Linked DNA regions of Homo sapiens. The protein of the gene in region 4 interacts with the protein of the main gene of each other region in a pairwise test. Each region holds a gene or a part of one and is shown on either strand. Other genes may lie near its edges.

What was found.
Region 1: the proteins of DDX24 (region 4) and SPACA9 interact in a two-hybrid assay, tested with the Homo sapiens proteins (one large-scale study listed by IntAct).
Region 2: the proteins of DDX24 (region 4) and POLA2 interact in a two-hybrid assay, tested with the Homo sapiens proteins (one large-scale study listed by BioGRID and IntAct).
Region 3: the proteins of DDX24 (region 4) and PTPN23 interact in a two-hybrid assay, tested with the Homo sapiens proteins (one large-scale study listed by IntAct).
Region 5: the proteins of DDX24 (region 4) and EIF3E interact in a two-hybrid assay, tested with the Homo sapiens proteins (one large-scale study listed by BioGRID and IntAct).
Region 6: the proteins of DDX24 (region 4) and MKS1 interact in a two-hybrid assay, tested with the Homo sapiens proteins (one large-scale study listed by BioGRID and IntAct).
Region 7: the proteins of DDX24 (region 4) and TRDMT1 interact in a two-hybrid assay, tested with the Homo sapiens proteins (one large-scale study listed by BioGRID and IntAct).

What each region holds. Positions count from the first base shown.
Region 1 is NC_000009.12:132,885,398-132,888,897, reverse strand, and holds part of SPACA9 (sperm acrosome-associated protein 9), read right to left. Parts: intron 1,530-3,500; coding exon 1,327-1,529; intron 609-1,326; coding exon 287-608; 3' UTR 1-286. UniProt on the Homo sapiens protein: Microtubule inner protein (MIP) part of the dynein-decorated doublet microtubules (DMTs) of multiciliated respiratory cells and the distal singlet microtubules of monoflagellated spermatozoa.
Region 2 is NC_000011.10:65,268,462-65,271,961, reverse strand, and holds part of POLA2 (DNA polymerase alpha subunit B), read right to left. Parts: intron 3,291-3,500; coding exon 3,233-3,290; intron 1-3,232. UniProt on the Homo sapiens protein: Accessory subunit of the DNA polymerase alpha complex (also known as the alpha DNA polymerase-primase complex) which plays an essential role in the initiation of DNA synthesis.
Region 3 is NC_000003.12:47,408,521-47,412,020, forward strand, and holds part of PTPN23 (tyrosine-protein phosphatase non-receptor type 23), read left to right. Parts: intron 1-255; coding exon 256-567; intron 568-642; coding exon 643-797; intron 798-896; coding exon 897-1,048; intron 1,049-1,134; coding exon 1,135-1,314; intron 1,315-1,407; coding exon 1,408-3,166; intron 3,167-3,262; coding exon 3,263-3,447; intron 3,448-3,500. UniProt on the Homo sapiens protein: Plays a role in sorting of endocytic ubiquitinated cargos into multivesicular bodies (MVBs) via its interaction with the ESCRT-I complex (endosomal sorting complex required for transport I), and possibly also other ESCRT complexes.
Region 4 is NC_000014.9:94,074,703-94,078,202, forward strand, and holds part of DDX24 (ATP-dependent RNA helicase DDX24), read right to left. Parts: intron 1-3,500. UniProt on the Homo sapiens protein: ATP-dependent RNA helicase that plays a role in various aspects of RNA metabolism including pre-mRNA splicing and is thereby involved in different biological processes such as cell cycle regulation or innate immunity.
Region 5 is NC_000008.11:108,210,718-108,214,217, reverse strand, and holds part of EIF3E (eukaryotic translation initiation factor 3 subunit E), read left to right. Parts: intron 1-3,500. UniProt on the Homo sapiens protein: Component of the eukaryotic translation initiation factor 3 (eIF-3) complex, which is required for several steps in the initiation of protein synthesis.
Region 6 is NC_000017.11:58,212,756-58,216,255, forward strand, and holds part of MKS1 (tectonic-like complex member MKS1), read right to left. Parts: intron 3,489-3,500; coding exon 3,333-3,488; intron 2,144-3,332; exon of another isoform or gene 2,084-2,143; coding exon 1,986-2,083; intron 1,633-1,985; coding exon 1,504-1,632; intron 1,115-1,503; coding exon 1,010-1,114; intron 336-1,009; coding exon 227-335; intron 1-226. UniProt on the Homo sapiens protein: Component of the tectonic-like complex, a complex localized at the transition zone of primary cilia and acting as a barrier that prevents diffusion of transmembrane proteins between the cilia and plasma membranes.
Region 7 is NC_000010.11:17,136,836-17,139,754, forward strand, and holds the end of TRDMT1 (tRNA (cytosine(38)-C(5))-methyltransferase), read right to left. Parts: 3' UTR 2,367-2,919; coding exon of another isoform or gene 2,362-2,366; 3' UTR 501-2,361; downstream 1-500. UniProt on the Homo sapiens protein: Specifically methylates cytosine 38 in the anticodon loop of tRNA(Asp). Has higher activity on tRNA(Asp) modified with queuosine at position 34.

The DNA.
Region 1 (3,500 bases), on a different chromosome or scaffold from region 4:
TACTTGGGAGGCTGAGGCAGGAGAATGGCGTGAACCTGGGAGGCGGAGGTTGCAGTGAGCCGAGGTTGCGCCACCGCACTCCAGCCTGGGCGACAGAGCGAGACTCCGTCTCAAAAAAAAAAGAAGTTAAAGCAAGAAGAGAGAGAGGAAGTCTCAGTAATATATTGGCTGATTCCCTTGGGGTTAGTAAGTGGCAGGGTCCATGGGTACCAGTGAAAAAAGGACCAACCAGTAAAATCCAAATTAAACAGCAAAGCTCTCCGCCGACGGAGCTCCTGGCTCTGAGTTACAATTTCCCACCAGGAGGCCTCCAGGGTGGTTTTGAACATCCCCTGGGTTTGAGGCTGGCTTTTGTGAGCTGTCTACACTTGTGTTTAGTGGCCCTGGGCTGGGTCCCTATGGCCTGGGCAGGACGAGCGGCTCCCCTGGTGCTCTCCTGGTGCGCCTGGGGCTCACTCACGTGCTGCAGCACCTTGCGCGGCAACTTCTCGGAGTGGGCGATCCATTCTTTCATTAAGTCTAGGATGAGGGGGATGAGGCTGACCACGCCGCCGTAGTGGTTCCGGGCCTCGTCACAGCTGAGGTGGTTCACCACATCATGAGGGTATCTGCAGGACGGCAGGGGGCCAGGTGAACCCATGCTCCCGGGACTTGCCATGCCGTGGCAAGCAGCTGCCACACCTCAGGCACAGCAGAGTCACCTGGGGAGGCTTTAGAACTGGACACACAGCACGCTGAGGCGCTCTGTCCCCAGAGATTCTGGCAGACCAGGCCTGGGGTGCCACAAGCCCCAGGTAATTCTGGTGTGAAAGACAGGAGATGCAAACCACTGCCCCATGGTCCGTAGAAACCTGGGTTAGGGGTGAGGAACTGGCTGGCTCATCCCTCTGGCTCTTCTCACCCTGGTATCTACAGAGCTTCCCCAGGCTCTGGCCCACTGTGCTGCAGGCTCCCGGGCTGTCAGGATGAGGAGCCCTCAGTGCCAGTGCTGCTGCCCCTGGGAGGCGGCTCTGGTGTCCACTTCTTTGCATGTCAGTGAGGATCTCTGTGGGCTTCTGGGGGCAACTGCTCTGGGCTCTACACCCCCTTCTCCACCTGCCTGGTGCTAACACCCGTGAGACACCTGGTGTCCTGCCATGTCTACGATGGTTGTAAAGAAAAGGTTTTGTTGAATCCGAGTCATTCCAATAAATGAGTGGAGACTGGGATTTCCTGCCCGGGGTGGTCTAATAGGAGCACCATGATCCAGGCAACAGGAAAGAAGCAGGACAGAGGCCTCCCCACAGGCACACACGGGGCCTCAAGAGCAGCATCAGAGGGACTTACTTTGCTCTGAGGCTGCTTAAGTCGTTGCTTTGGCTAACGAGGGTTTTGCATTTCTCCAGGAGGTTGTTGGTGACTGGGGTGCCAGAGTGCACGGCCTCAAAGTGCTGGCAGAGCTTATTCAGCTCTGAACAGATGTCCAGGAACATGAGCAGAACCCGCCGGTCTGTGGAGCTGTTGCAGTAGTGTTCCATGTAGCTCTGCACCTGCAAGGGCCGCCGCCACATGAGCTGGGGACATGCCAACCCGGGTCCTGGCTGGCTTATGGTGCAAATGTCCAGAAGCACCCACCCTACTCCCTCCCACCCTACATGACTCATGGGGGAGACGCAAGTAACGCTTAAGCATTTTAAGGTACAGACCACTCTATATAGTGGTATCTCTCTCTCTATAGATGGATGGATGGATGGATGGATGGATGGATGGATGGATGGATAGATATGATATGAAATTAATGGATCGGTTGGGCACAGTGGCTCACACGTGTAATCCCCGCACTTTGGGAGGCTGAGGTGGGCGGGGATCACTTGAGGTCAGGAGTTCGAGACCAGCCTGGTCAACATGGTGAAACCCCATCTCTACTAGGAAAAAAAAAATTAGCCAGGCGTGGTGGCACGTGCCTGTAATCCCAGCTACTCGGGAGGCTGAGGCAGGAAAACCACTTGAACCCGGGAGGAGGAGGCTGCAGTGAGCCGAGATCATGCCACTGCACTCCAGCCTGGGTAACAGAGCAAGATGCCATCTCAAAAACAAAAAATTAATTAAATTAAATGGACGGATGGATGGGTAGATAGATAGATGGATATAAAATCAAGTGTTCCAGGCACCATGCAAAATGCTTTACGGGCCTGCTCTCGCCTGTCTTCATCTAAACCCTACACACTGAGCAGGTACCTTTTTAAATTCCCATTTTACAGATCAGTACCATGACATGAACACTGGAGGTTTGCAGAGGTGAAATAACCCGCCCAGGGCACCAGTGGCTTAGTTGGGTGTCCCCAGCTCAGTGGCTCCGTGCCCTACCCCTCACCTGTCCCCTGCCACCTGAACCAACCACCGCCTAAAGCAAAAGGGGGCTGCCCCCTGACTTAATGCCACAGTGCCTGTCATCCCACTTCTAGAGGGTTCATTGTGAGAAATTCCAGCGTGGGCCACCCATACTGAGAGGGAAACAGCAGGGACTGGAATCCTTTGGGCTTCAGCCGTACTGTGTTCACAAGGTGGAGAAGGAGGGGCAGGCCAGTAAGTGGAGCTTATGGGGTTACCCAGTGACTGCATCTGAGGTTGGGCCAGAGCCGGAGGTCTGATCTCGAGCTAGGGAGGAATTGGCTGTGGTCCAGGCCAGATGAACAGACCCATTTCGTAGTCAGATGGTTCTACTCTCCACAATCTGATGACAGATGCAGGTATCACCTCCTCCAGCACCCACAAAGGTCTACATCTAAATCAGGGTTTTCTTGCTGTAACCGTTTGTCTTTTTGTTGCTAGGGGATGTTTCCCCAAACAATCTGAAGTGGTTCCTTCCCAAGGACTGCCATGCACAAGCAGCTTCGTAAGGGGGAGAGGCTCTTCACACTCATACCCACAAAGGCACCTGTAGGGGTCGAGGAGGAGGAACCTGCCCCATGGTGTAACTACAACAGAGCATTGCGGGGGTGGGGGGCGGTGTGCAGGGAACCTTTGGACACTTCTGGTTCAGGGAGGGCAGGGGAGGGGTGAGGCAACTCAGAACACAAGGCCACTGTTTACCAAGAGCCTTCGGCTGAACCTAAGGCAAGAAGGCCACTCCCTTATGCATGGATGTAGATTCTGGGAAGGGACACTTGTTGACTTTTGAAGCTTCTGGAGGATGGACTAAAAAGGATGTAGGCAGTTTCTTTTCTTTTTTCCCCCGAAGTCCAGGTTTACAGAAGAGGAAGTTTATTTTCCAATAGCTCAGGGGCTGCATGCGTGGGCAAATATGGCTAAATTGGCTAAATGTCACAAGTCGGTGAATCTGGGTGAGGGTTATATGGGTGCTCCTTTTCTGTACATTTAACTTTTTTTTTTTTTTTTTTTTTTTGAGACAGGGTCTTGCTGTGTCACCCAGGCTGGAGTGCAGTGGTGCGATCTCGGCTCACTGCAGCTTCTGCCTCCAGGGTTCATGTGATTCTCATGCCTCAGCCTCCCGAGTCACT
Region 2 (3,500 bases), on a different chromosome or scaffold from region 4:
TGATAAGTACTGTTCTAAGCATTTTACGTATCTCTAGCCTGGACATATTGTTTGCTCAACATTTCACTCCAACTCATTTAGCGTGGAATTCACAGTCACAAACTTTTTTTTTTTTTTTTTTTTCAGACGGAGTCTGGTTCTGTCATCCAGCCTGGAGGGCAGTGGTGTAATCTTGGCTCACTGCAACTTCCACCTCCCGGGTTCAAGCGATTCTCCTGCCTCAGCCTCCTGAGTGGCTGGGATTATAGGCACCACCACCATGCCCAGCTAATTTTTTGAGTAGAGATGGAGTTTCGCTGGTCTCGAACTCCTGACCTCAAGTGATCCACCTGCCTCAGCCTCCCGAAGTGCTGGGATTACAGGTGTGAGCCACTGCACTCGGCCTCACAGTCACAAACTTTGATTCACAATTTAGTCTCCTAAGTATTTCCATAGCAGGAATGGGGTATCCTAAATATGGGATTTCAGTCATTGGAAGGGTATCTACTTCAATAGTAAAGTAAACAAATTTGCACCTGGCTTACGCATCAGTCTACTGACAGCTGGGTTACCATGAGTCAGACTCCGGAATATGATCAATTCTGGATACACAGACAAATTACATAAAATTCTGGATCTGTGAAGCTGTTAACCAGATAAAACCGTGGTGGTCCCATTGGTATTGCAATTGAGAGAGCCAACCACACTCCCTTATTCAGAGATCTTTCAACAACTATTAACATGCCAGGGTGCTGGGAAAACAGCAGCAAGTAAAAACAAAGTCTCTATTCTCAAGGAGCTTCCATCTAATGGAGGGAAGGCCGACTAAAACAAAAAAGTAAGTATATAACATGTTTGGTGGTAATAAAGCAAGAGAATAATAAGGAGAAAAATAAAGCAAGAAAATAAAACAGAAGAAGGGCTTTGTTCTTTTAGGCAGGCTTGTTCCCTGACAAGGAGACATAGGAAATGAACCCATATTTGGCACGGCAGAAGCAGAGAGCAAAGGGGAGCAGGGAAAGAGGACAGAAGGAGGAGGGGGCCAGCTCCTACAGAACTTCACATATGCTGGTTCAAACTTTGCATATCAGGAGGAAAGACGAAAAGCCAGTGGGAGAGATGTGAGCAAGAAAACCTGACCTTTTGCTGGAAAGGAGCACTCTGGCTGCTGGGTGGAGAGGTGGTTAGAGGTGGATATGGCAGAAAGAAGCCAATGGACTAGTTAGGAGGCTGTCCCAATCATTCAGGAGACAATGATGCTGTGGACCTGGTGGTAGCAGTGGAAATGGTGAGAGGTGGCCAGATCCTGGAGAGGGATGACAGGACTGGTAGCTAAGTTGGATGTGGGGTGTGAGAGAAAAAGGATTTAAGGAGGTCTCCAAGGTTCTTGGCCTGAGTCAATGGAAGAACGGAGGTGTCCTTCACTGGGATATGGACTCAGAAAACCACTTTAGGAGGAAAATCAAATGAGTTATAGTCTCTCCAATTTTAAGAAACTCTAACAAACACCTAATTATTTCTTTTAATATTATATGCACCTGGTTTTGTGTTAGCAACTTCATGGGGCACATTTTTGGCCCTCTTACTCTCCACAGGCATATCTAAACTATTTACCTTCTTTCTTCCTGAGACAGGGTCTCACTTTGTCATCCAGGCTGTAGAGCAGCGGCATGATCTCTGGTCACTGATCCTCCTGCCTTGGTCTCCCGGAGTGCTGGGATTACAGGCATGAGCCACTGCACCCAGCCCTTACCTTCTTTCTTATGATGTAATTTACTTTGAATAATTAAGGCTCCCTCCATGTTTATGAATTTCTACAAATTTATTTAGTTAGTATAAAGAATAATTACTGGGCTGGGCACGGTGGCTCACATCTGTAATCCCAGCACTTTGGAGGCCGAGGCAGGTGGATCACCGCAGGTGAGGAGTACGAGACCAGCCTGGCTGACATGGTGAAACCCCGTCTCTACTAAAAATACAAAAATTAGCTGGCCGTAGTGGCGCATGCCTGTAATCCCAGCTACTCAGGAGGCTGAGGCAGAATTGCTTGAACCCGGGAGGCGGAGGTTGCAGTGACCCGAGATCGTGCCATTGCACTCCAGCCTGGGCAACAAGAGGAAAACTCCATCTCAAAACAACAACAACAACAACAAAAAAGAATAATTACTATTACTGAATACATTGCATAGGGCAATGTAAATTACCTCTTTCTTATGATGTAGTTTACTTTGAATAATTAAGGCTCACTCCATGTTTATGAATGTCTACAAACTTATTTAGTTAGTATAAAGAATAGTTACCATTACTGAATACATTGCATAGGGCCTGATACTTTACCTATTTATTTCCTCTTCAAGCCCTCCAAGATGGGGGATATTGTGCACTGGCTGTCAGCTTCTTGAGGGCAGAGCCCATCCATGTCTGTTTCATTCACCATTGTTTACTCAATGTCTAGTGCAGTACATAGTTGTTGTTGTTGTTTTTTTTTTTTTTTTTGAGACGGAGTCTCGCTCTGTCGCCCAGGCTGGAGTGCAGTAGCGCGATCTCGGCTCACTGCAAGCTCTGCCTCCCAGGTTCCCGCCATTCTCCTGCCTCAGCCTCCCAAGTAGCTGGGACTACAGGCGCCCACCACCACGCCCGGCTAATTTCTTTTTTTGTATTTATGGTAGAGACAGAGTTTCACCATGTTAACCAGGATGGTCTCGATCTCCTGACCTCGTGATCCGCCTGCCTCAGCCTCCCAAAGTGCTGGGATTACAGGCATGAGCCACTGCGCCTGGCCACATAGTTGTTGCTGGATAACTGAATGAATGAATCCTGATATTATGGATAAGGAAACTGTCTCAGAGAGATAAAACAACTCACTCCAGGTCACCTAGGTCTTCTGACTCAGACTTTGAAGGCAATGCTTTTCCACTACCCTACTTGACCTTTCACACTGGGATCCAACACAGAACTGAATTATTCAATTATAGTATAAAACTATGAAACTATTCAAAAAGGGCAATTATGGAGAAATTATGTTTATAGAAATGTTTTATGTTGTGCTGAGAAAAGCAGGATAACTATATGTTTATAAGGACTGCCATTATGTAAAACATTTAGACATATGATCAGAAAGGAAGATGTATAAGTGGAAATATAGTAGGAAATGCATGAGAGTGGTTGATTTTTTCCCTCAGATCTTCAAATGTTGTGAAACTATTTTAAAATGTTACTTGTAAAATGCAATGTCCAAACACTGTTTACTTACCTTTGAAGGTGTGGTGTAAGAGTTCAAGAGGATTTCCTCTTCTTCTTCCACTTCAATTCTAAGAACACTGGTTAAGAAAAACAATAATGGCTGGGCACGGTAGCTCATGCCTGTAATCCCAGCACTTTGGGAGGCCGAGATGGGCGGATCACGAGATCAGGAGACAGAGACCATCCTGGCTAACACAGTGAAACCCCGTCTCTACTAAAAAAAATACAAAAAATTAGCCGGGCGCCTGTAGTCCCAGCTACTCGGGAGGCTGAGGCAG
Region 3 (3,500 bases), on a different chromosome or scaffold from region 4:
GGGAGTGTGGAGGTCATCTGCTGTGGCCTCCTCCGTGTCCCTGGTCACTGAGGATGGAGGCTGCACCCCTCTAGGCCCTGGCTTGGGCATCCACACCCACTCCTCTGAATCAGCATACCTCTTGCACCCTGCTCAGTGTGCGCTGGGCCTCACTTAAGCCCTGACCTGAGGGGGCGGTTCTGTCTCTTGGGGGAGGGGCCCATGGGTGCCCGGTCAGCCTGCCTCAGGGGCTGCCTGTACAATCCACAACCCCAGTGCTGTCAGGTGTGTTCACGGATGTGGAGGCTTCCCTGAAGGACATCAGAGATCTGTTGGAGGAGGATGAGCTGCTAGAGCAGAAGTTTCAGGAGGCGGTGGGCCAGGCAGGGGCCATCTCCATCACCTCCAAGGCTGAGCTGGCAGAGGTGAGGCGAGAATGGGCCAAGTACATGGAAGTCCATGAGAAGGCCTCCTTCACCAACAGTGAGCTGCACCGTGCCATGAACCTGCACGTCGGCAACCTGCGCCTGCTCAGCGGGCCGCTTGACCAGGTCCGGGCTGCCCTGCCCACACCGGCCCTCTCCCCAGGTGAGCCCCACCAGACCCCATTGGGAGACTCGAGCTGGGGGTTTCTCTGGCCTCACTGACCACTGCTGCCCACAGAGGACAAGGCCGTGCTGCAAAACCTAAAGCGCATCCTGGCTAAGGTGCAGGAGATGCGGGACCAGCGCGTGTCCCTGGAGCAGCAGCTGCGTGAGCTTATCCAGAAAGATGACATCACTGCCTCGCTGGTCACCACAGACCACTCAGAGATGAAGGTGGGCTGGGTGAGCAGGGTAGAGGGGCTCTGGCTCCGGGCCCCACCCTTAGGAGTCGAGGCCCTGAGTGTCCGTCCCTGGCCCCCACCCCTTCCTCAGAAGTTGTTCGAGGAGCAGCTGAAAAAGTATGACCAGCTGAAGGTGTACCTGGAGCAGAACCTGGCCGCCCAGGACCGTGTCCTCTGTGCACTGACAGAGGCCAACGTGCAGTACGCAGCCGTGCGGCGGGTACTCAGCGACTTGGACCAAAAGTCAGTGCCCAGTCCTCTGCTCTTTCCCGGAGCCACCTGGAGCCCAGCCCCATGGTTCACCTGGAGCTGGCCCTTCTGCCCACCAGGTGGAACTCCACGCTGCAGACCCTGGTGGCCTCGTATGAAGCCTATGAGGACCTGATGAAGAAGTCGCAGGAGGGCAGGGACTTCTACGCAGATCTGGAGAGCAAGGTGGCTGCTCTGCTGGAGCGCACGCAGTCCACCTGCCAGGCCCGCGAGGCTGCCCGCCAGCAGCTCCTGGACAGGTTTGTGTGGCCCTGGGGCTGTGGTGCGGCTCGGGTCCAGACAGGCTGGGGTGATGGGAGCCTGGCCCCACTTTTTCCTTGCCTGTCGCACAGGGAGCTGAAGAAGAAGCCGCCGCCACGGCCCACAGCCCCAAAGCCGCTGCTGCCCCGCAGGGAGGAGAGTGAGGCAGTGGAAGCAGGAGACCCCCCTGAGGAGCTGCGCAGCCTCCCCCCTGACATGGTGGCTGGCCCACGACTGCCTGACACCTTCCTGGGAAGTGCCACCCCGCTCCACTTTCCTCCCAGCCCCTTCCCCAGCTCCACAGGCCCAGGACCCCACTATCTCTCAGGCCCCTTGCCCCCTGGTACCTACTCGGGCCCCACCCAGCTGATACAGCCCAGGGCCCCAGGGCCCCATGCAATGCCCGTAGCACCTGGGCCTGCCCTCTACCCAGCCCCTGCCTACACACCGGAGCTGGGCCTTGTGCCCCGATCCTCCCCACAGCATGGCGTGGTGAGCAGTCCCTATGTGGGGGTAGGGCCGGCCCCACCAGTTGCAGGTCTCCCCTCGGCCCCACCTCCTCAATTCTCAGGCCCCGAGTTGGCCATGGCGGTTCGGCCAGCCACCACCACAGTAGATAGCATCCAGGCGCCCATCCCCAGCCACACAGCCCCACGGCCAAACCCCACCCCTGCTCCTCCCCCGCCCTGCTTCCCTGTGCCCCCACCGCAGCCACTGCCCACGCCTTACACCTACCCTGCAGGGGCTAAGCAACCCATCCCGGCACAGCACCACTTCTCTTCTGGGATCCCCGCAGGTTTTCCAGCCCCAAGGATTGGGCCCCAGCCCCAGCCCCATCCTCAGCCCCATCCTTCACAAGCGTTTGGGCCTCAGCCCCCACAGCAGCCCCTTCCACTCCAGCATCCACATCTCTTCCCACCCCAGGCCCCAGGACTCCTACCCCCACAATCCCCCTACCCCTATGCCCCTCAGCCTGGGGTCCTGGGGCAGCCGCCACCCCCCCTACACACCCAGCTCTACCCAGGTCCCGCTCAAGACCCTCTGCCAGCCCACTCAGGGGCTCTGCCTTTCCCCAGCCCTGGGCCCCCTCAGCCTCCCCATCCCCCACTGGCATATGGTCCTGCCCCTTCTACCAGACCCATGGGCCCCCAGGCAGCCCCTCTTACCATTCGAGGGCCCTCGTCTGCTGGCCAGTCCACCCCTAGTCCCCACCTGGTGCCTTCACCTGCCCCATCTCCAGGGCCTGGTCCGGTACCCCCTCGCCCCCCAGCAGCAGAACCACCCCCTTGCCTGCGCCGAGGCGCCGCAGCTGCAGACCTGCTCTCCTCCAGCCCGGAGAGCCAGCATGGCGGCACTCAGTCTCCTGGGGGTGGGCAGCCCCTGCTGCAGCCCACCAAGGTGGATGCAGCTGAGGGTCGTCGGCCGCAGGCCCTGCGGCTGATTGAGCGGGACCCCTATGAGCATCCTGAGAGGCTGCGGCAGTTGCAGCAGGAGCTGGAGGCCTTTCGGGGTCAGCTGGGGGATGTGGGAGCTCTGGACACTGTCTGGCGAGAGCTGCAAGATGCGCAGGAACATGATGCCCGAGGCCGTTCCATCGCCATTGCCCGCTGCTACTCACTGAAGAACCGGCACCAGGATGTCATGCCCTATGACAGTAACCGTGTGGTGCTGCGCTCAGGCAAGGATGACTACATCAATGCCAGCTGCGTGGAGGGGCTCTCCCCATACTGCCCCCCGCTAGTGGCAACCCAGGCCCCACTGCCTGGCACAGCTGCTGACTTCTGGCTCATGGTCCATGAGCAGAAAGTGTCAGTCATTGTCATGCTGGTTTCTGAGGCTGAGATGGAGAAGGTGAGAAGAGGGGGTGGGTGCCCACGAGGGCAGTGTGGGGTGGCAGGGCAGGGGATCCTGGAAAACCAGGTCTGTCTTGGCTTATCTGTCCCTCAGCAAAAAGTGGCACGCTACTTCCCCACCGAGAGGGGCCAGCCCATGGTGCACGGTGCCCTGAGCCTGGCATTGAGCAGCGTCCGCAGCACCGAAACCCATGTGGAGCGCGTGCTGAGCCTGCAGTTCCGAGACCAGAGCCTCAAGCGCTCTCTTGTGCACCTGCACTTCCCCACTTGGCCTGAGTTGTGAGTCCACTGCTCTGGATGGTGGTTGGGGGTCTAAGTGCTGTCCAGTCCTT
Region 4 (3,500 bases):
AAGGTGTTAGCCACTGCAATACAACAAGAAAAACAAAAGGCATCCAAGACTGGATAATGATCATCTTTGCAGAAAATACCATGGAATCCTCAGAAAACTACTTGGTGGAACTAAGTTGCAGGACACAAGATCAATATACAAAAATCCATCATATTTCTACTTATTGGCGACAAACAATCGGAAATAAAAAATTTTAAATTACCATTTACAATAGAATCAAAAATATAAAATGCTTAAGGATAAATCTAACATAAGATGTGAAAAATCTATATACTGAAAATTTTAAAACATTGCTAAGAAAAGTTAAAGATCTAAAGAAATGGAGAGATACCATATTCATAGACTGGAAAATTAAATATTGTTAAGACGTCATCTATCCTCAATTTGCTCTGTAATCAACAGAATCCCAATCCAGATATCAGCTTACTTTTTTTGTAGAAACTGATATAACGGATTCTAAAATCCATATGGAAGGGCAAAGGCCTACAACAGTCAAAATAACTTTTAAAAAGAACAAAGTTAGAGGACTCATACTACCTGATTTTAAGACTTATTATAAAGCTATTATAACCAAGAGAATAAGAAACTGACATAAAGACTAGACAAACAGATCAATGGAAAACAAAAAGACTCCAGAGAAAGACCCACACCTATATGGTCACAGACTTTCAACAAAGATGCAAAGTCAACTCAGTGGAGAAAGAATAGTTTTTCTACAAATGGTGCTGAAATAATTAGCCATATGCAGAAAAACCCACAAACTTTGATCCATACTTCTCACTCTAAATAAAAGTTAACTCAATAAGGATCAGAGACCAAAACATAAAACCTAAGACTATTAACACTTCTAGAACAAAACACAGGAGAAATCTTTGTGATCTTGAATTAGGCAAAAGGTTCTTAGATAAAACACCAACGGCACCAAAAGCATAAATTCATAAAAGACAAGGCTAATTTGGATTTCATCAAAATAAAGACTTTCTGCTCTTTGAAAAACACTGTTAAGAGAACGAAAAGATAAGCCACAAACTGGGAGAAAAATTTGCAAATCTCACATCTGATAAAGGACATGTATCTAGAATACACAATGAACTCCCAAAACTCTACAACAGAACATCCCTATTTTAAAAATGGGCAAAATAATCAAACAGACAAATAAGCATATGCTAAAATGCTCTACATTGCTAGTCACTAGGGAAATGCAAATTCAAATGACAAGGAAATAATAGTAAAATTTTAAAAGTCTAAAATAAAATTAAAGACTGAGCATACCTAGTTATTGACAAGAATATGGACCAACTTGAACTCATACCACCTAGTGACAACGTAAAATGGTATAATCACTTTGGAAAACTCTTTAAAAGTTACATTTACCACAAGACCTAGCCATTCCACACCTAGGTATTTATCCAATAGAAATTAAAGCACATATCCATACAAAGACTGGTACAATAGTATTTACAATAACTATATTTGTAATAGCCAAAAACAAGAAAAAGCACAAATGTCCATCAATAGATGAACAAACTGCTCTACCCACACATTGGAATACTATTCATCACTAAAAAGGAATGAACTGCTAGTAATTGTAATAACATGGCGTAATCTCAAATTATGCTGAGTCAAAGACTCAGATACCACCCCCTCCAGTACATATTATATGATTTCATTATATAAAATTCTAGAAAACGCAAATTAGGCCGGGGACAGTGGCTCACACCTGTAATCCCAGCACTTTGGGAGGCCGAAGCAGGCAGGTCATGAGGGCAGGAGTTTGCGACCAGCCTGACCAACATAGTGAAACCCCGTCTCTGCTAAAAATACAAAAATTAGCCAGATGTGGTGGCAAGTGCCTGTAATCCCAGCTATTCGGGAAGCTGAGGCAGGAGAATCACTTGAACCCAGGAGGCGGAGGTTGCAGTGAGCCGAGATTGGGCCACTGCACTCCAGCCTGGGTGACAGAGCGAGACTCCGTCTCAAAAAAAAAAAAAAAAAGAAAGCAAGAAAATGCAAATTAATCTATAGTGATAGAAAGCCTATCAGTGGTTGCCTGAGGAGGAACAAGAACTGAGGGAGGGAGGGAGGGACAACAAAAAAAACCCAGGGTATCTTTTTGGGGGTAATGGATATACAGTTGACCCTTTAACACAAATTTGAAGGTAGGGGTCCACTTATACACAGAATTTCTTCCACCTCAGCCACCCTGAGACAGCAAGACCAACCCCTCCTCTTTCTACTCAGCCTACTGAAAGTCAAGATGAAGATGAACACATTTATGATGATCCACTTCCATTTAATGAATAGTAAATATATTTTCTGTTCCTTACAATTTTCTTAATAACATTTTTTCTCTAGCTTATGTTACTGTAAGAATAAAGTATATAATACAAAATATGTGCTAATAGACTGCTTATGTTATCTGTAAGGCATCCAGCCAATAATAGGCTATTAGCGTTTAAGTTTGGGGGGAGTTCAAAATTATACATGGATTTTCGACTGCACAGGGGACCAATGCCCCTAATCCCCACATTAAGGGTCTATTTATTATTGCATGGGCAGTGGTCTGTTCACAGCCCCAGATGGATGACTTATCCAAGTCGTTTTGAATTCTGGACTTGTAGATTCACAACCTGACAGGAACTGTGGTATACATCCAAATGTCAATCTCTGGCCACAACGGCTCATATAAACCTTGTTTCTGCCTTCCACGGACTTACTTCCAGGACTCTGCTGCACATACCAAAGCAGTGTAGCAGAATGCTTAACAACACACAGAACTAGCCTGGAATCCATACACTACCATTTCAGTTGTGTAATTTTAGGGAAGCTGTCTATGCTCTGTGAGGCTGAGTTTTCTCATCTGTAACATGGGAATAATGGTACTTACCCCAGGGTGGTTGTGACAACCGATTTCATCAACATAAAGCACTTAACACAGTGCATGACACATCTTAAATGCTCAGTAAATGTTCTAAGTTATTATCTCCATTCCCCTTTCCTGTAGTTCCTCACTCTTCCATCTATATGACTGCCACAGAACATCATCCTGAGTTTCCTGACCACTGTTCCAGAAACCCAAAGCACGTGTCTACTGAACACTTAAAATGTAGTTACTCTAAAATGACATGTGCTGCAAGTTTAAAACACACCAGATTTTGAAAATTTAGTAAAAAAAAAAAAAAGAACATAAAATATCTCACTAGTTTTTAACTTTTAAAAAATGTGACTCCTAGTAAATTTTAAATTACTTATGTGTTTCACATTATACAGTCACCCTTCTGTAACCGTGGGTTCTGCATCTGTGGATCGACAATATTCGGGGGGGTAAAAAAAAAAAAACTGTATCTGTACTAAACACTGTACAGACTTTTCTTGTCATTATTCCCTAAACAATACGGTGTAACAATTTACATAAGACCTATGTTGTATGAGATATTATAAGTAATCGAGAGATGATTTAAAATATACAGGAGGATGTGCCTATATAGGTTATATGTAAG
Region 5 (3,500 bases), on a different chromosome or scaffold from region 4:
AATCCTTTCCATTTAGTTTGTATGATTTAATTACATATTTGACTTCTCCTATAGTAAACTCCTATGGCATCTTAAAATGTTGAAAGATGGAAAAATTATAGTGAATTTTAGTTGTAATTTCCTGTTTTGTCAGAAAATATTGGGAAAAAATTGTGAAATGTACATAACCTATTAGAAATAAATTGTACACATTACAGTTTGAAAAATGACTAGTGCCCTTTGGGCACAGAGGAAGTCAAACAAATGTTTAAAAACCTACTGCTTTAGTGTTTGCTTCTGAGGAATTGTGCATAAAACAAATTCTTTTTCTTTAATGCCATTTGTTTTTGCTTATCCATACTTCGCTTGCCTAATTTTAGTGGGCCGTCCGTTGAAGTGGTTGTCCAGAGTTAGAAGGATAGTATAATCATGGGATTTTTCCTATGGGAATTGAATCCTTGCCTTCACAGTTTTATTAGCACTTTACTGTAGCTTGCAGACAGAATTTTTTAAACCTGATTCTCTTACAAATTACATGAAAATTCCTAATAATGTAATTGGTTATGAAATAAAGAGGTAGGTACATCATATGTGGGGCTCCGGTGGATAGTAGTAACTGAATTCTTGCATTGTTCTTTGTTTTTAAGGTTTGTAATTAGGGCTTGTGAAAGAGGGATGTTAGTATTTTGGTTTCCCTTGTAGAATTTTCTCCATTTCTCATTAGAATGTGGTCATTTGGGTGCTTTTTGGTCCAGAACTGACTTAGCTACTACCGCTGTTGTGGGCCTTTTGAAAGCTGACCCTTTTTTTTGCATCTTTAGCACCTAACATACTAACTTTGTAGCACCTAATATGCTTTGTACAGTATAGTGTGAGTATACAATATAAATATTTGTTAAGTAAATTTCTTCTGTTATTAGTGAACTTGGCATTTTTGTCCATGATAATGCTTGTCTGCTTTGGTGTTTGCTTCCGAGGTACTATCAATAAGATTTGTTGTAGCTCTTTTCCTTTAACTCTGCAGCCATGTATTCATTATTTTCTTTCTTGGGATTTGGTTTATTATCTTTTAAGAGGAACATAGATTAAGTATGTGTTCTCCTTACTGAAGGGAGATGTGCAGCTCAAAGAAGTTAATAGAGTGGGAATGTTTCTATATACCTTTATGTGACACTACCTAAGAATTTTTCAGACTTTTCTCCGTGTAGATTTTTATTACTTCCTTGATCTCTGTAGTTTTCTGCTAGACAAAAATCTACAAAGCATTTTCAGACTAAAGTCCTAGTGGCTTTCCAGAGTCTAAAAATATTTTTTTTTCTAGTAGTAGCATTTTCTTTCACTTCAGTTCTTCAATTTTTTTTTCAATGTTTTACTAAGATGATTAAGAGTACATAGATCAATAATGTATGTTTTTCTTTTTCTTTCTTTTTTTGGGGGGAGACACAGTCCTGCACTGTTGCCTAGGCTTGGGTATAGTGGTGCGATCTCTGCTCACTGCAACCTCTGCCTCTCGCGTTCAAGAGATTCTCGTGCCTCAGCCTCCCAAGTAGCTGAGATTACAGGCATGTGCCACCACGCCCAGCTAATTTTTGTGCTTTTAGTAGAGATGGGGTTTCACCATGTTGGCCAGGCTTGTCTTGAACTCCTGGCCTCAAGTGATCTCCCTGCCTTGTTCTCCCAAAGTGCTGGGATTACAGGCGTGAGCCACTTGCGCCCAGCGTTTTTTCAAGTACTATGGTAGAATTTTCAATCTGAAAGAAATCTTAGGGATCTTCTGATCCAACAACACAGTTACTTTTCAGGTGAAGGACTTCTCAGTAGAATTTTCTGTAGTGATAGAAATGTTTTATATCTGAAAATGTGTTTCTATGTGTTCAGTACAGTATACTTCATAGATGGCTCACATTTCAAGATCTTGAAGTATGGTTTCCAAATCTCTGTGTGACAGTGGGACTTATTTTCAAATGTAATATCATATATATGAATATATGTATTTATATATGTGTATAAGCAGATCAAAGCAGAGCCCATTCACCGTGCCTATCTTACAGTTCTGTTCAGCTTCTCTCCTGACTACTAAGACACCTCTTTGGAACACAGTTTTACAAAACACTGACTCAGAACAACTGCATTGTTTTGTAGCCAGGAAATTTAAAGCTCAAGGACATTAAGCTAGGTCTTGATAGAGCCTGTACTAAAGGTATCTGACATTCATTGTACTGTACCTCACTGTAAGTTCTTTTATATTGTGAACAATTTATATTTTTAGAAATGTCAGGTTTAGATTAATTTGTCATTTAGTTTATCAGTTGAGCCAGAGGATAAAGATGAAAACCCTAAGTCACTTTAACTCTGTGTTTCAGAATCTTTGTAGAGTTTGTTTTATAAACTCCCTATAGCCACCCTAAACCATTGAATCAGATTTATTGAGTAGGCTATGCTATGATTTGCAGCAGGGCTGCTGTGCTGTATCTTGAGGGTGGTTATTCCGAAGCACAGCCAGAATCCAAAACCACTGCATTAGGTAACCAGTTTTTTAGGCGTGTAATTACAGCCTGCTAAAGTAATGGAGTGAAAAATCAGTAATTTAATACCTTTATTATATAATGAATTAAGAAGATAAGCTTCTTCGTGTTTCTAAGGATGCTTTAGTGGGTTAGAAAGACAAAAGAAACTACCATCAGAGTGAACAGACAACCTACAGAATAGGAGAAAATTTTTAGCATCTACCCATCTGACAAAGGGCTAATATCCAGAATCTACAAAGTACCTAAACAAATTTACAAGAAAAAAACAACCCCATCAAAAAGTGGGCAAAGGATATGAACAGATACTTCTGAAAAGAAGACATTTATGCAGCCAACAGACATATGAAAAAATGCTCATCATCACTGGCCATCAGAGAAATGCAAATCAAAACCACAATGAGATACCATCTCACACCAGTTAGAATGGCGATCATTAAAAAGTCAGGAAACAACAGGTGCTGGAGAGGATGTGGAGAAATAGGAACACTTTTACACTGTTGGTGGGACTGTAAACTAGTTCAACCATTGTGGAAGACAGTGTGGTGATTCCTCAAGGATCTAGAACTAGAAATACCATTTGACCCAGCCATCCCATTACTGGACATATACCCAAAGGATAATAAATCATGCTGCTATAAAGACACGTGCACACATATGTTTATTGAGGCACTATTCACAATAGCAAAGACTTGGAACCGACCCAAATGTTCATCAATGATAGACTGGATTAAGAAAATGTGACACATATACACCATGGAATACTATGCAGCCATAAAAAATGATGAGTTCATGTCCTTTGTAGGGACATGGATGAAGCTAGAAACCATCATTCTGAGCAAACTATCACAAGGACAGAAAACCAAACACCGCATGTTCTCACTCATAGGTGGGAATTGAACAATGAGAACACTTGGACACAGGGTGGGGAACATCACACACCGGGGCCTGTCGTGGGGTGGGGGGAGTGGGGAGGGATAGCATTAGGAGATATAC
Region 6 (3,500 bases), on a different chromosome or scaffold from region 4:
AAGTACCTAGCACAGAACATGGTAAATGCTCAAATAAATGGTTATTGTTATTATTATAATATGATCAAAAACTTCTGTCTGATATGTCAGCAATGCTGCCTAAGTCAGAAGGGGCCATGAAGGGCAAGGCTTTTCCCGAGCAACTGCTGACATCAAGTTCAGAAATGGTCTCAGCTCCAGGCACTGAGGCTCATCCCTTGGATACTTGGAATGAACTTGCGCTTACATCCTTGAACACTCGCCGTTCCCGCTCCTCCTCCTCCGGCTGTGCGTGGGGGGAAACATTGTCGATCGTATATTTCCACAGCTCCTGCTTCTCCCCCTCCGTCTCAATCCTGTAAGGTCAAAACCACAGAAAGGAGCAACTCTAATAATGAGAGATGGGCCCTGGGATAGCTCCCAGCCCAGGGATGAGCGATCAGGGGCCATACACCTCACTAAAGTATATGATGATAAAAGTGGCTGTATTGACGACCAGGAGAGAGAAACAAAAGGGTAAAGCAGAGAGGGCACCAGACTAGACTCAGAAAGTATAGGTTCTGGGCCCATTTCTGGCTTGAAGTTACAGTCAAACTGTAAGGCACAACATTCCTGCCACCCAGTTCTCTCACCTGAAAAATGGACAGGTTGGGCCAGATAATTTCTAATTTACATTTCTGTCATTTCCAAGATACAGAGATGAGGAACAGTCAGCCCACAGGAAAAGCCTGGCTGAGTTCACCCCACTCTGTTCTGGTCAGGTCCTACATTCAGCAGCACAGAGAATCACTGTCATTTAACTGTACCACTGAAGTGATCCCTTTCAAATTGGTGCAGTTGCACATTTTCTGAGAAAGGAGTCCCTGGTTTTCTAAGGCCCTATGACTTGGAACAGAATACGAACCATTGCCTGGGAATGTAAAAGTTAGAACAGATGAAGGACTTTCTGACAGTCTAGTTGACTAGGGACAAAAAGTGCAACCAAGGGAAGGAATGCCAGTCTCCACTACCCCTTTCTTCCTCTCCTCACCTGTAGGGTCCTTTGAGGCCCGTGAAGTCAGGCTTTACTGTGATCACACCATTGCTATCCACCTTCAGAGTACACAGGACATGTTCATACTTCTTATAGCCAAGCCTAGAAATCAGGAAAACACCAAGGTTGAGGTCAATGGTCCTTCAGGGAAACAAGAAGAGATACTGAGCCCACTGCAGGGGAGAGAACAGAGGCTATAGGGAGAGCTGTCATGGTAAAACTTTCTTCCAAGTACAACTAAGAAAAAAAAGGAAGAAAAAGTCCCTTCCTCTCCTATAACCCAGGATGATAACAGGAAGGGGATAGCTGGTGAGAGGAGAAGAAGATGAGGATCTGAGTTGGCAGTGAGAAGCTTCACTCATAACTAAGAAGAGAAGGAAGAAAAAGTCCCTCCCTCCCCTATAACCTAGGATGATAATAACAGGAAGGGGAGAGCTGGTGAGAGGAGAAAAGGATGAGGCTCTAAGCTGGCAGTGAGAAGCGCCACTCACTTTTTATAGGGCCCCAGGTCTGCCATGATGTGCATTGTCTGAAGAGGGGTGTTAATGACGTGGTTGTTCCTGACAAACTCTTCTGAGGGCTCCCAGGTGACGATGCGTGACTTGAGGATGCCGCCCTCCCTGGGAGACACCACAGAAAGGTCACTTCCCTGGCACACCCCAATGGAGCACCCCAGTGGAGAGCCACTTCAGAATGGGAAGTTTGAGCTAGTGGACATACTGTTTTGTTTTGTTTTTTAAGAGCCAAAATATTTGACAAACAGAAATGACATCCCTTCCCTCTCTCTGAGGCACTTTGGAAAAATGTCCACATGAAGAGTGAGGAAGATATTTTATATTTTTATATTTATTTTTTAAATTAATTACAAAGTAATACTTGAATACTATATATAACCACTGATAAAAATGCAAAACTACCCAACTTTAGGAAATAAAAAGTAAAAGCTTGTCCCCCATCCCATGCCCGCACTCACATCCCTCGCCTGTCCTGCCGGCGACGCCTGACATTTGCCATTCGCTCGACCAAGAATGAAGGCACCTCGCTGGCTGCAGTGGTCATTCTCTGACAGTGCTGGGAAAAGCAAGCAGCCCTGTGTACGCCATCTGGTCAGGGCCACATGGAGCCAAGTACCTGAAGGGAAGTCTTCCTCCTGAAACCTCATCCAGGACCTGAACCCCACAGGTTCCGCCACCTCACAATTATACATGCTAACGGAGGGAGCAGTAGCCAAACAACCCAAAGAAGATTTCTACCACATCATGGTTTGCCTTTGGATTTTAAAAAGGAGTTATTTATGTTAATATTAAAATCAGTCTGCATTCTCTGAGCACAAACCAACAAAAAGTTGGGTTAGTGTGCTTGGTAGATGTTGAAGTTAACAAGGTGGTTAGAAAATGCCAAATGGGATACAAGCATTTTGTGGGAAATCCTCACATGGTAACTGAGCACTAACTGCATTTTCATTTGCTTTTCCAAAACAGACAACCCAAATTTTATTTAATTTATATATTTTTTTAAGAGACAGGGTCTCACCCAGGCTGCAGTGCAGTGGTGCTATCATAGCTCACTGCAACCTTGAACTCCTTGGCTCAAGTGATCCTCCCGCCTCAGCTTCCCACGTAGCCGGGACTACAGGTACATGCCACCATGCCCAGCTAATGTTATCAATCCACAGCTCTAATAATGAAAGCACGTCAATCTTTCAAAAACATTTATTGAATACCTGTTCCTTGCAGAGACCTACAGAGTCATAGACAAAAATAAAAAAAATAGGCTCTACCCTCGAGGAGCTTAAAATCTTACTGAGAAGACAGAAGCAACTGAAATGCAGTGACTGAAGAAAATGTAAAACAAGGTCACAAGGGTATTTTTGTCATAGGCAAATTGAGGACATAAGCCATTTTCCATAGCTATACTGAATTCCTCTTCAAACCCATATACTCAGAGTTTGGGCTGAATCCCCTGATGAATTTTATCTATATTGTTCCAGACTCCACTACCTGTCTTTTTTCATGATGCATGGAGGAAGTCAAGCCCAGTGGTTACTTCTCCCAGTATGCACTCTGCAAGCATATAATCAGAGATACTGGCAGCTCCCCCAGGCCCTCTAGCAGGCAGAGAAGGGAGCAGCAGCCTCACCACCTGTAGACTGTGCCCATTCTATTCCAGGCTGGCTGCCAGCAGCAGCAGCTCACAGCAGTTCCTAGACAGGCTACTTGTCTCCCCTTACTAGGCTCTGACATAACACACAGAACTCAGTGAGGCAAAAAAGCTAGAGGAAGCAAAGATGGAAGCTATGAGACCCTAGAAAGAACAATACCTCCTCCAAATTGGTGTATCTATCAGAGTCAGTGTAGGTAAAGATTCGTCGGTTTTTCTTGCCACCCGAATTCTCCAGCTTCAGGATCTCCTGACGGTACTGATAATCCAAAGGACTCTGACAGGCTGTTTCATTTTGGTACAGATCTACTTCAAACTGAGGTTACCA
Region 7 (2,919 bases), on a different chromosome or scaffold from region 4:
TTGCTGGTTTAGGTCTTTCTAATTCATGCTAGAGGCTTTCCTCAAATACCTATGGATCCTTATATGTTCATTGACATTTAAAAATAACACATTACAGAATGGATGGTAGGCTCTGTGTGCATGGGTGGCGATTATAACTGGTAGGCTTTGCCACAGAGCAACCGAATGGCAAACTGACAATTTCACTGGGGAACCCCAAATGCCCATCTTTGAAGGCATCTTGCCCTGGAGACGTTCAGAAAAAAATTCTCCAGTCTTCTACCTGGACTAGTAGAGGTGACTGGAGATTTTATACTAAGTGTACAGACTTTACTTACCCTCTTATTTTCTGTATTTTTCTCCAAATTCTTGAAGAGCATCTCATTGCCACATTAGTATATTTCACTGCTGTTTTTTATACCAATGTTCACTTTTTATTCCTACCAGCTTTATCTAAATTCCATTGTTTTAGAGGCTTAATAAGCATTTAGTGAAGACATACGAAGTCCTTGACCATGGGGGAAATTTGAAAGAAGTAAATTTATTGACCTTCTCTGATTTACAATAAAGTCGTAATGTACAAATCTGGAGAGCCAGAGTTAGGCAACATTACAAAGACAAGTGTGACAAGATGGCACAGATACACAGTAGCATGCTGTTAAGTAAACAGCAGGTACCAAACTAGGAAAGATGTCCAAGGCCCAGTATGGGCACACTATAGAAAGTGGTTCCACTGGCCGGGCTCAGTGCCTCGTACCTGTAATCCCAGCACTTTGGGAGGCCAAGGCGGGCTGATCATTTGAGGTCAGGAATTTGAGACCAGCCAAAATGGTGAAACCCTGTCTCTACTAAAAATACAAAAAAATTAGCCGGGCATGGTGGCACACACCTGTAGTCCCAGCTACTCAGGAGGCGAGGCTGAGGCAGGAGAATCGCTTGAACCCAGGAGGTGGAGGTTGCAGCAAGCCGAGAGCCACTGCACTCCAGCCTGGGTGACAGAGCGAAACTCTGCCAAAAAAAAAAGAAAAAAAAAAAAAGGTTGTTCCACTTGTCCAGCAGGGTGACCTTGAAGGAAAGTGGCTGGGTAAAGGAAGAGACATCGACAGAAGGCCTTAAGTGGCAGGTTAAAGAATGTTGATTTAATCTTTTTAATAGGGGGATGTTCTTTTATCTTGAGTGCAATAATCCTTATGTGATATTTCTGCTAGGCCAGCTGAATTTATCTGGAGGACTGGATCAATGTGGGAGTCATAAAAATGAGGAGAGGGTTGAGATGCAGAGGTGCGTTGGAGGATGGACAAATTGGCAAGATTCTCACACCCCTAATGCTAGCTCCCATTACATGTTATAGCTTCAATCTGGCTTTTGTGCTTTTTTTAGTCCCTTTTCATTTTCATATCAGTTTAAAACAGAACACTGTAGAATTAATCTGGTTTTTAGTCATTAATGGAAACATTTGTGAATATAACGATCTTTTAACCTTCATGACACTTAATTCATTCTCTTTTTCAGGGACGTAACATTGCTTAAAAGATACATTTACATATGTCAGTTTTGTGATTTTCTGCAAAATTTCAGGGCAATATAACATTGTTCCAATTCTTTCATTTTCCATGAAGGATTACATAAAATAATGATGGAAATCAAGGTACATTTAAAACTATTCTTTTGCTCATTTCATGGGAAGTGCATTACCATGTAGGAAATTACCAAGTCTACTACTGTGATGAACTGATCTTTTTGAAAGCAGTGTGGTCTTGGCTCAAGGCACATAAAGCAGACATTTGTTCTCCATGCTCATTATTACAATGACTACAATTATCTTTGAGTAGAATGAAAAAGAATTATGAGTTAATCATTAACATTTAAATTGCTGAGGTTTGGCAGAGCTTTTCCTGAGAAAGCAGATTGTTGAGAGTTTGGAGAACTTTTCCACTTTTTTCAAGTTTTTTTTTTTAAGTAATATAATCCCTTCATAAACAATGAGAAAAAAATAACGAAATTCAAATCCAGAGGGACAAACGCAATAGGGGAATAGGGCTTTGGAGGAGGAGCACAGGGGTGTTCGTGGCACATGTATACACACGTGTGCACACACAGCTTCCTAATTGTAACTCAAGCAAATGTTACAGAAAACATAAAATATGCACTGGAGGGTCTCGCATCATTATAAGGATCAGCCATAGCAGAGGAGATACTAATTGCTAGGATTAAAGGCTCCAAAAGCTAGTAAAAAAATCAACAGAGCTTTCTCTACCTCCAACAGCTCCCGGAATGGGGACTTCAGCAGCTCCATTGGATTAATCCAAGCTTGGTTTCCAAGGTGTGAAGCAATGAAGCGGAGTTTACCATAGGTGAACCCTCCTGCCATCCTGTTCCAAATCAACCTAAAAAGGACAAAATGAGTTTTCTACTTGGTGACCCCTAAAATTCCCCAAACAAGGCGGTGAAGTTAAATATTTAGACACCATTCATACGATAATCAAAGGAAAATGTCTGATTGCACTCAGACTTCAGCATGAATGACAGAAGAAATGTAGGTGGTAAATAACTGCAAACAACTTATATTGGATCTGATCTTAGGAAAAGGGGAAAGTACATCTTTGTGATGATATTTTGTGTTCTATTAGGGGAGGAGAGCAAGAGAGGTGAGGATGTCACCACCGATGGGGGGAAGAAAAAAACAGTTTGGTTCTCTTCTGGGAAGGAAAATGAAAAAAAAGAAAAAGAAAACAAAGTTTGGGGATACCTGGCACTCTTCAGACTCTGCCTCTTGTACCTTTAATTGGGAAGATAGACGCAGAAGCAGTACACACAGGCATCTTTATCTTGTGAGAGGAAGCTTTGCATTACGGATGTGATTTACGGTTAGAGGAGTGATTTAACAAGGCTGATGCCTTACAAAGGGGCATCATTCCCAGGGGATTTGTTAATTGAAGT